3 linked regions of the Homo sapiens genome follow. The protein of the gene in region 1 purifies or fractionates together with the protein of each later gene. This does not show direct contact. Each region holds a gene or a part of one and is shown in the gene's direction. Other genes may lie near its edges.

Evidence for each region.
Region 2: the proteins of NPC1L1 (region 1) and DNAJC10 purify together in Homo sapiens (affinity purification with mass spectrometry; one large-scale study listed by BioGRID and IntAct). This does not show direct contact.
Region 3: the proteins of NPC1L1 (region 1) and CLPTM1L purify together in Homo sapiens (affinity purification with mass spectrometry; one large-scale study listed by BioGRID and IntAct). This does not show direct contact.

The regions. Positions count from the first base shown.
Region 1 is NC_000007.14:44,520,780-44,524,428, reverse strand, and holds part of NPC1L1 (NPC1-like intracellular cholesterol transporter 1 isoform 2 precursor), read left to right. Parts: intron 1-2,186; coding exon 2,187-2,377; intron 2,378-2,592; coding exon 2,593-2,717; intron 2,718-3,310; coding exon 3,311-3,437; intron 3,438-3,608; coding exon 3,609-3,649. UniProt on the Homo sapiens protein: Plays a major role in cholesterol homeostasis. Critical for the uptake of cholesterol across the plasma membrane of the intestinal enterocyte. Involved in plant sterol absorption, it transports sitosterol, although at lower rates than cholesterol.
Region 2 is NC_000002.12:182,729,664-182,733,312, forward strand, and holds part of DNAJC10 (dnaJ homolog subfamily C member 10 isoform 1 precursor), read left to right. Parts: intron 1-184; coding exon 185-278; intron 279-1,366; coding exon 1,367-1,444; intron 1,445-2,835; coding exon 2,836-2,879; intron 2,880-3,649. UniProt on the Homo sapiens protein: Endoplasmic reticulum disulfide reductase involved both in the correct folding of proteins and degradation of misfolded proteins.
Region 3 is NC_000005.10:1,321,050-1,324,698, reverse strand, and holds part of CLPTM1L (lipid scramblase CLPTM1L), read left to right. Parts: intron 1-829; coding exon 830-912; intron 913-1,787; coding exon 1,788-1,822; intron 1,823-2,879; coding exon 2,880-2,935; intron 2,936-3,019; coding exon 3,020-3,064; intron 3,065-3,649. UniProt on the Homo sapiens protein: Scramblase that mediates the translocation of glucosaminylphosphatidylinositol (alpha-D-GlcN-(1-6)-(1,2-diacyl-sn-glycero-3-phospho)-1D-myo-inositol, GlcN-PI) across the endoplasmic reticulum (ER) membrane, from the cytosolic leaflet to the luminal leaflet of the ER membrane, where it participates in the biosynthesis of glycosylphosphatidylinositol (GPI).

The DNA.
Region 1 (3,649 bases):
GTCTTACCCAGGAACAGTTTCTGTTGGTTAATATTTTCCCTTTGAATGGGCCATGTTTTTCTTTTTCTTGGTGTGTTTTTGGTTGAAAAATGGACATTTGATTCTTATAATGTGGTAGCTCTGGAGATCAGATTCTCCTTCTTTCCCAGGGCTTGCTTTATTTTATTTATTGCTGTTGGTGTTTCTGTGCTGGGGATCAGCCAAAGGCACAGAGTTAATGTCTTCTCAGGTATTTTTGAGACTGCATTTTTCTCTGAGCATTTATGCAGTGTGGTGACTGTCTAAATATCCCTATATTTATGGTTGCTTTTGAATGTCCTTGTCCTTATATGTATGGTTCCCAAAAGGAGAAAAAGGGAAAAATGAAGGTGTCGGGGATAGGTGCTTACTCTTTAAATCTCCTGGAAGTCACTTTAGTAAGATGTGGAGGTGGTTGCAACAACGGTGGTGGGAGTTGCATTAGTGGCTGCCTGCCTGTGTATCTGTACCACCAATATCAGAAGTAATGATCAATTATCAGAACTCAGATCCTTGATATTTGAACTTATTTATTTATTTATTAGAGACAGGGTCTGGCTCTCTTGCTGAGGCTGAAGTGCAGTGGTGCAATCATAGGTCACTGCAGCAGCAAACTTCCAGGCTCAAATGATTCTCCTATTTCAGCCTCCTGAGTAGCTAGGACTACAGGCATGTGCCACCACACCCAGCTAACTTTTGTATTTTTTTTTGTAGAGACAGGGTGTCGCTATGTGCCCAGATCGGTCTCCCACTCTTGGGCTCAAGTGACCCTCCTGCTTGCCCTCCCAAAGTTCTGAAATTACAAGTGTAAGCCATCATGCCCAGCTGATATTTGGTGGATGGTGTCCTTGCCTACCTGGCTCCTGCAAGCTGTGTACAAGCTGCTTCTGGAAAGCATACACAGCTGCATGCCTTGAGGCTGGGAGTGGCAAATGGGTAGCTGCTACTGTACTAAAGCTGAGATTGCCTGAAATTAACCACAATTTACTGTCCAAGCCTTATCCTGGAAGCTTCCAGCCCTCAATAGACTCCAGAGTTCCAAAATCGTTACACTAGGGCCGGTGTGGTGGCTCATGCCTGTAATCCCAGCCATTTGGGAGGCCGAGACGGGTGGATCACTTGAGGTCAGGAGTTTGAGACAAGCCTGGCCAACATGGTGAAACCCCATCTCTTTTAAAAATACAAAAATCAGCTGGGAGCGGTGGCACATGCCTGTAATCCTAGCTACTCAGGAGGCTGAGGCACAAGAATCGCTTGAACCCAGGAGGCGGAGGTTGCAGTGAGCAGAGATCGCGCCACTGCACTCCAGCCCAGAAGACTCCATCCATCTCAAAACAAAACAAAACAAAACAAAAACAAAATAGTTATACCAGACAAATTGTTGTCTAGCTGGGGAGAGGGATTCCTGACACTTCCTACTGTGCCATTTTCCCTAATGTCACTCTGAGCCTTTATGTTATAGAAGGGAGCAGACCATGAGGATGCCTGGTGCATGGCTTTGAGGGTGTGCACACTGACATTTATATGTGCACACAAATATGGGCCGTTGTCACAGGCCAGCTTGTTAGACGGTGGCTGTGCCATATTGGGGGTGATAGGAAGGGGTACAATTATGTGTCTGTGCATGTTTGTGTGTGTCAGTGTGTGTTCATGTGAGGTGATAGGTGTTGCTCTGTGTTTGTACCTGCATAAGTGTACTTCTGTTTGCACCTGTGATTATACCTATTCTGTGAACCTTGGAGTATGTTCATCTGGGGGTACACCTAAAACTGTGTTCCGGTGTAACTGTACAGTGCACATACATCTTGAGGGTACCCCTGAGTGTGTGTGTCTGTGCATGTCCTTCTCTATATGTACCTTGTGTGTGACCTCTGAGCATGTACATCTCTGTGTATATTTTGTGTACTTGTGTGCATGTACCTCTGTGTACCTCTAAGCATGTATCTACGTGTATATCTCTGAGTGTCCCACTGAGCACATCCCTTTGAGTGTGTAACTGCATGTGTGTCTCTGAACATGTTCCTCTGTGTGTTCCTCTGATCATGGACCTCTGAACATGTGCCTTTTAGCATGTACCTCTGTGTGTACCTTCGAGAGTGTGAGCTGGATTGAGCCCTTTAGGGGTGTGCATAGCGAACCAAAGCTCACTGACCCTCCTCCACTCCTAGGACTCGTACCTGCTTGACTATTTCCTCTTTCTGAACCGCTACTTCGAGGTGGGGGCCCCGGTGTACTTTGTTACCACCTTGGGCTACAACTTCTCCAGCGAGGCTGGGATGAATGCCATCTGCTCCAGTGCAGGCTGCAACAACTTCTCCTTCACCCAGAAGATCCAGTATGCCACAGAGTTCCCTGAGCAGTGAGTTCCTGGCCCGCCCCAAACCCCAGCCTACTCCCTGTTTGAGTCCCTCCAGTCCTCTCCAGTCCCCTCTTCCTGATGTTCTATCCCTGTCCTGCTGCCCTGCTGCCTTGCTGCCGTATGCCTGGGGAGGGCTGCGTGGGGGTTGGGCCACGAGAAGGACCCACCACCCTGCCCAGCTGGCCTTTTCACCCTTCCTCCCACCTGCCCCTTAGGTCTTACCTGGCCATCCCTGCCTCCTCCTGGGTGGATGACTTCATTGACTGGCTGACCCCGTCCTCCTGCTGCCGCCTTTATATATCTGGCCCCAATAAGGACAAGTTCTGCCCCTCGACCGTCAGTGAGTGTGGGGCCATGGGGACTCACTGTCCACCACAGCTCGGGCAAACTGAGGCAACAGAAAGGAGAGGACTGGAGAGGCTCCCTCAACCTCTCCCACGCATCCTGCAGGGTCTGTCGGGGGCATGGGTGCAGATGTGGCCTGAGGGACAGGCACTCTGTGAGAAGCACCTGTGTGGGTGACCGTGCTGGCCCGTGGGCATCACACATGTATACTGCTGTGTACTGTGCCCCCATTTTCAGAGCACATGGTGCTCCCGGGTGGCAGGGCAGTGGGGAGTCAGGAGGGGAGAGCTGCTGAGGTTAGCACATGGCCCTGCCGCCCAAAGCAGTGGCATTTGTAGGTGGAGAGGCCTTTGTGGGGCCTGTTTTTCTGCCCCAAACTTCCTTTCCCCTTCTGCCTGTAGGTGCCCACAGTTTCTATAGCCAAGAGGAGAACTTCTCCCACAAATGACAAATGCAAATCCCCCTAGAAGCGACTGGTTGAGGCTGGAGTGCCCAGGACCTTTGATGGGATTGTTGGGGAAGGAGGGGCACAAAGCAGGAGCTGCTGGCCCTGGGGTGTCACTGCCCAGACCCCTGCTTTCTCTGCAGACTCTCTGAACTGCCTAAAGAACTGCATGAGCATCACGATGGGCTCTGTGAGGCCCTCGGTGGAGCAGTTCCATAAGTATCTTCCCTGGTTCCTGAACGACCGGCCCAACATCAAATGTCCCAAAGGGTAAGCTTGGGAGGGCCTTCTGCTGGGGAGGACAGACATGTGGGACACAGGATGGGGTTGAATATAGAGAGGCAGGAGGAGGCTATCAGGGGCCTCTCTGGGGTGGCTGTGGGCTGGGCAGATGAAAGAAGCTTCGTCCCTGGCTAAGCCTTTGCCCTGACCTTCTTGCAGCGGCCTGGCAGCATACAGCACCTCTGTGAACTTGACTTCAG
Region 2 (3,649 bases), on another chromosome or scaffold:
TGTTCCATAGAATCTGTACTGTCAAGATTATCAGGATATCATTTGGAAATACATTCTGCTATTGAGAAATAGAGCTTTGCTGCATTATTCAAGATAATGTAAAAATCAAACTCTTTGGTATTATTTTTATTGAGTTTTAAAAAGAAAAAGTAAAAGATGTTTCTCTTCTTACAAAAACCAATAGGCCCCAGTGAAATATCATGGAGACAGATCAAAGGAGAGTTTAGTGAGTTTTGCAATGCAGCATGTTAGAAGTACAGTGACAGAACTTTGGACAGGTAATTTTATTTTCTTAATTTGCTTGATTTTCAGGGTATTTTGAAATCAGTATTTTGTTTTTAATGGCAATATTAACATTTTGGTCATGGTATTGAAATTTTAAAGTGTCTTTTCCATGTTTCTTAGAAGGGAATTGTGTCATTTACTCTGAACTCTGCTGAATTTAACAAACTAGTTAAATTTTTACAGAAACTTGAACTATCGAGATATGGGAAATGGATATGAGATAGGGCTACGGTAAAAAAGGCATCTCTCAAAGTGCAAAAAATGTTTTGTAATACAAGTGTTTTATTGCTTTTTTAAATATGCTTATCAATCAGTAAATTCAAACCTATTCTGTTTAATTTTAAAGTTTAAAAATGCTTCTAATCTTAGGCTTTTAACTCATTAACTGCCTTTAGGCAGATTAAGCTAATAATAGTATTTGTGGCTCAAGATGTTCATTTTATTCATTGAGTAAAGTTACGTGTCAGAAACTATTAAATAGTGGGGCTGCAGTAATAAAATATATAGTCCCTGCCATCAGTGACTTCATTAGTGAGGAAAACATTAGTAAACAATTAAAATGCAATATAGGTACTATTATTATAGAGCTTAAGGGAGCATAAGATGTGTAAAACAACCCAGTTGGGGAAAAGAGAAAGAGTTAGAAAATACTTCTTGAAAGAAGTCATATCCAATCTGTCATGAAAATGAATAGGAAGCCTTAGGAGATCACTGTGTATTTGGGGAACTGGCAATACTTCATGAATCTGACAAAAAGATCAATAATTGGGTCAAGTGGTGTGGGGAAATATAATATAGCTGGCTAAATAGGTAGGCAAAGCTCAAGTCACAGGGGCCTAACTTGCCAATTTGAGTTTTTTTCTTAATGAAATAATGAATTTAGGTTTTATATGATGAAAAAATTGGAGAGCCATTGAAGGAATTTGTCATACTCAAGAGTATCTTTGGAAAGATAACTGGTAAAACTCAGAGTGGATTAGAAGAGGGTGAGATTAGAAAGGAAAAATTACTTAGAAGACTGTTTCCATTAGTAAAGGAGTAATAGGTGATCAGAATTTGCTTTTTTTCTTTTATTTTTAAGGAAATTTTGTCAACTCCATACAAACTGCTTTTGCTGCTGGTATTGGCTGGCTGATCACTTTTTGTTCAAAAGGAGGAGGTAATACTATTTTTTAATTTTGTTGGAATGAGAACATGACATTTAAATTTTTGGTGACAGTTTTAAGTATGCTACTGTAATTGATTATTAAGTACTAGAAACTACAATTTATGCCCAGGATTACAATTTTTTTACTTAATGAATATTCGCCTTTTTCATTATTTTACACATGAGGTTATTATTCATTTTTTAATGTATCCTCTATGTTTTTATGTTCAGTGGACCAGTTTTTCAGCTTAGACTCATGATAAATTGTACCTTCAGATAGCCACAGATGTTATTTGACAATTTGCAAAAATAACTAGTTGTTTACAGCTCTAACCCCTCCCAAAATAATAATTTTTTGGAAATATGGACTTTGCTTCATGCTTATATATATCTCTCAAACATACATAGATTTGCCTCATACAATTATATACTTGAAGATGACAGCTTCTTCTAGGAACCTTTCCTTGAATAAATTAAGTTGAAAATTCAGTACTCTGCATAGCAAGCCGTAAACTGTAAACTGTGTTCAAGCAATGTGGTTGGTTAAAAATTGTTCTAAGACAACAAAATATTATAACTCAATGTATTTGCATGTATTTAATCCCAACATGAGTCTTCTCCCCACATTTCATCTCTCAGCCTTCATGCTGCTATATTGAAAAGGTACTGCCTTGTAACTAAAATCAACCCATTACCCCATCCTGTAAGGCCTATGCTAGAAAGACACTGCCTTGCAGCAAAACGTCAGCCTTAAACTTAACTAATCACCAAGGGATTTTGTCTCATTTTGGCCTATTGCCCAAATTTCTGTTCATCCACACATGAACAAAAGTTCTTACATTCTCTGAGATTCTTTTACTTCTCACCTCAAGTAAATTGCTTCTCCCTGTCTTTGTAGGCTCTGTGATGCTATAGCTCTCTTTCTTCTAAATCTTCTCTCATTGTATTCTAGTGTTCATATTTGCAGAACTTTCATAAAAATAGTGAAGGCACTATTTAAAGATTTTATTGTATTTTGAGGATCCTTTATATACTTCTATCAAATATCTATTACATTTTATTTCCCCCCAATTTTGAGATCTCTTGGATAAAATGGATTGTTGATAGGAGGAGAGATTGAGAGTATTAACCTAAAGAGAGAAAATTACTTTTTCTCTGTAGCTAGACATCCTAGAAATTAAAGGGAGAGAATGAAAGAAAGAGGGAGCGAGGGAGTGTGTGTGTGTTTTTGTGTGTGTGTTTGTATGTGTGTGTGTGTAGAAGGATTTCCATATCTATCAATAGAGTCCAGCTCAATTAATTGCCTTCGAATGAACATGGTAATTTGGGGGAAAGGCAAATGCAAGTATTTTCATCAGGCTTAATAAAGGTAAAACTGCCTCATAAGGTTTTTTTGTCCCCAGATTGTTTGACTTCACAGACACGACTCAGGCTTAGTGGCATGTTGGTAAGCATCAATCATTTTGTAAAACTATATCACCATGTAAAGAAACACATTTAGAAATTGATTTGAAACATTTTCTTCCCTTATTTCTTGAACATTTAACTCACCTATTTGTAATCTTATTTTCTGATGACTGTATTCATAGCTATGTGTTTTTTCCTGAATAATTAGTTACGTTCAATAAATTTTAACGTGGTATCAATTCTAAGTGTCATTTACTTTGTAAGTATTCTGTAATTTATAAGTTCCTCTTCAACTGAAGTTACATGTTAGTGTTTTTGTCATTTCCCAACTTTATCTTTTGTTGTTTTCTTTTTTAGTCATTTTTAAATGTATATAGCTCTCATGTTATGGCTGGGAAGTAGCCTGAGTGATGTTGATTTTTTAACACCATTGAAATACCCTTTGTGGCTTTGTGGCTTGACAAAGCCACACAAATTGTCAGTTTTGAAAATTTTGGAAATTCTTTGTGAGCTTGAATATAATAATGTTATGTTAGGTGTAATATATGTTAGGTGTAGTATTACATTTATTAGATCAGATTTATTAATCATGTTATTTGTTTTTGGACTACATGATCTATAATTTCTAAGAGGGATGTATTAAAATCTCTACCATCCATCATTGATTTATCTATTTCTTATATTTCTGTCAGTTCTTCCTTTACATATTTTGACATTATATTGTTGGCAGCAGTATGATCATTATATCCTTTGGCGGCTATTTATTTCTCTTTGTGCATTATGGATTTGTTTACACAAATTCTGTTTTAT
Region 3 (3,649 bases), on another chromosome or scaffold:
TTTTACTGTCATTGCTCAGTGCGGAAGTCTCCTTGGAGTACGGGTCAGCCCGCCTTGAGCAGGGATCCCAAGAGTGAACACATAAAACCCAAATTTCTTACTGGGAAGGGCGGGGGCTCGCAGAGACTCATTTCCCAGTCCTTACAGGCACAGCCTGCCTGTGTCACCGTATAGTAGGGATATTTTCATCGTTTGTAAGTCACATTCGCCAGGCAGCTGACGCAGGCCATGGTGTCTGCTGTGGTTGCTGGGAACGCACTTGCCGTCACCAAGGCCATAATGGCCGCGGCCGCACAGTGGCCTGGAGGAATGGCCCCAGCAGCACAGGGCGTCACCTTTCCCCATTGCTGTTGGGGGAGCTGGAATTCTCAGTTCCAGTTAATAGAACATTTCTGCACAGATGATTTTAGTTTGGTTTAATCTTCACCAGCTTATATCCAACTTGCATGGCGTTGTAAAGCTGAAATCAGAATGGATACAGCTGGCGATGTAACTACATTACTTAGTAGGCAGTTTTTTCCGGTTTCTTTCCATTATGTTTATTGATCTGTTGTGGGTTGGTTGGTTTTGACCAACCAGAATTGATCTATTATTGTTAACTAGCGCCTGTAGTTACACCCGGGCTCTGGCGTGTGCGGTGCCTCCTGGGGCTGTGGCGAGTGTGCGATGCCCTGCCTGTGCCCCTCACGCCGCCCCCTGCAGAGCAGCCCTGCCACCCTGAGCGCTGTAGCTCGTTCTGTCTGTCCCTGTCGGGGTGAGCTCCATGCAGTGTGTTTACAGAGGCTTGGCGTTTGGGCCTCTAACTGGAAGCCATCTTTGTTCCCTGCAGGCCATGAAGTACTTGTCATACCTGCTGTACCCTCTCTGTGTCGGGGGTGCTGTCTATTCACTCCTGAATATCAAATATAAGAGGTAGGAGGCCGCACACGCTTCCCCTGCTGCGTCTTTCCCCTGAGAAAGCCATTTGGATGACTGAGCCAGAGCGGGGTGCGACTGGAGGGCAAACTCGGGGCCGGGGCACTTGGGCCAGCGCCTGGGAGGGGTCCTGCCCCTGCAGCTGCACACGGTGGGCTCTGGGCCTCAGTGTCCCCCTGGTAAGGTGTAGCTGAGAGGACTGACTCCAGCCACCAGGCTTCATGGGAGGCTTGGGCCTGAGCTGAGAGGGGTCCTGGAGCCCCTGGCCTCTGCTGCCCGTGTGGGGTGCTGGCCCTGAGCTGAGAGGGTTCCCGGAGCCCCCGGCCTCTGCTGCCTGGGTGGGGTGTTGGCCCTGAGCCGAGAGGGGTCCTGGAGCCTCCAGCCTCTGCTGCCCGGGTGGGGTGCTGGCCCTGAGCCAAGAGGGATCCCGGAGCCCCCAGCCTCTGTTGCCCAGGTGGGCTGCTGGCCCTGAGCCAAGAGGGATCCCGGAGCCTCCAGCCTCTGCTGCCCAGGTGGGGTGCTGGCCCTGAGCTGAGGGGTTCCTGGAGTGCCCGGCCTCTGCTGCCCGGGCAGGGTGCTGGCCCTGAGCTGAGAGGGGTCCTGGAGCCCCTGGCCTCTGCTGCCCAGGTGGGGTGCTGGCCCTGAGCTGAGGGGTTCCTGGAGTGCCCGGCCTCTGCTGCCCGGCCGGGGGTGCTCAGCGCTATCTCCAGCTTGAGAACCAGGCTCAGCACTGCTGCTCTTGGCTGCCGAGCTGCCGTGAGAGCATCTGGGTATTTTCAGAGGATTTTTAATGAAAGAATTATTTTTCATCAATTTAATACAGATATTAAGCTATGCGAGAAATAGGACTTCTCCTTTTTTTTCCGTTTCAGCTGGTACTCCTGGTTAATCAACAGCTTCGTCAACGGTGAGTCCATGTGCTTCCCTGCTTCAGTACTAGTGTTTCCAGCAGGCAGCGATTTAATTGTTCTTGCATTGAAACCCAGTGTGGCAAGCCCCCCTGTGATTTGAGGCTAATCCCTCCCCACCCTGTTCTGGCACATGTGCGGTGCCCAGGGCTCCCCCCAGGCTGTGAGCAGATAAAGCCCTGCGTGGCTTCACAACAGTGACTGGTTCTGAGAAACAGGTCCTTGTACAAGCGACAGGGAGTGCTCACACCAGATGTGGCAGCCCCTCCACGCCAGGCTGTGTGGTGCAGCCGCCTGGTATATGTGTCCATCGCTGATGAAAACAGCATTGTGTGGTGCATGACTGTTGTCTGTTTTCTTCATGGAAACAAGGAAACCTAAGCATTAAAACAACACCATCCACGTCTGGTTCCTTAGAGCAAATGGAAGCACCAGGCTCTGGTGCACGGCGCGCCCCCTCCTGCAGATGCAGTGTGGGGACCCTGCAGGGCCCTGTGCTCGGGGCCACATGTCCTGGGAGGCCCGCCTGCCCCAGGTGGCACCTTCAGCTGCATGGGCTGCTGTGTCCATCCCCCAGCCCCACCAGACCAGCCCTGATCGCAGCTTTGTGGTCTCTTTGGGAAGTGGTCCCGTGAGCATTAAGGGCGAGGGCCTGTCTGGTGCAGAGCAGGTGGGTCCCGCACTGCCGTCCTCCCTGGTAGGAGTCCCACACCTGACCCCTGGGGCAGGACCTTGTGGGTCAGGAGGCCGTGTCCTCATAGCCCCAGGGTGCTCCAGTGCTCTCACTGACTTGACCCCGTGGGCAGCAGTTACACTGATTAATAAATAGAAGAGCTTTGCTCTCCAAAGTTGTCGTAGACTCTTGATAAACTTACCAGCCAGAAAGCTGCTTCACACCATGATGGACTCTGAAGTTGTCTGGATAGCAGACCTTGTTTTCTGCCCACTATGCATAGACGTGGCAGCTCGGCCCTCCACACCTCGTGAGTGCCGTCTGTGCGTAGATGTGGCAGCCCGGCCCTCCGCACCTCGTGAGTGCTGTCTGTCTTTCTGCAGGGGTCTATGCCTTTGGTTTCCTCTTCATGCTGCCCCAGCTCTTTGTGAACTACAAGGTAAGGCGGTGTGTGCTGCCCGCGGCCCGGCCCCCGTCTCCTGTGCTGCCCACAGCTGACCTGGGCCTGTCTCTCCTGTTTCAGTTGAAGTCAGTGGCACATCTGCCCTGGAAGGCCTTCACCTACAAGGTGAGTGTGACAGCCGGTGAGGAATCCCTTCTCACTGAGCAGAGCGTGAGCAAGGGCGTCTTCCAGCCAACAGCATTACTGGGGCCATCTCTGCCCAGAGTGCATCTGCACCTGTCCCTTTCATTGAAGAATATTGAGGAGGCTCCTTTAAAAAAAAAAGCGAAGAGCTATAGAGTAACTTCAGACCCTGAAAGACTGGGGTGGTTCTCTCACTTGTCACAGATTTGGTTTTCTTTTTCTTTTTTAGTGTTTATGTTTCTTCTTAGCACATGTGTCAAGACACAGACCCCCTGTGGCTCAGTAACCGGTGCCTGGGGACAACGGATTCAGGCCTCCCAGGCAGGAATGGAAGCCCCCATGGGCCGTGGCCATTCCCCGCTGGCAGAGCTGTGGAGGCCCCCTTGGCTCCGTGTGGGATTAGAAGTGCCTCGGCATTGCAGGCGGAGCTGAGTTAATGGGACATGATTTGCACTTTTCTGAAGTCAATTACAAGCTCCCAGAGGAAAGGGCAATGCTCAGGTGGCTCTGCCCTTGGCTCTCCCCTTGGCTGTGGTCTCGGGCGGCTCTAACCTTGGCTCTGGTCTC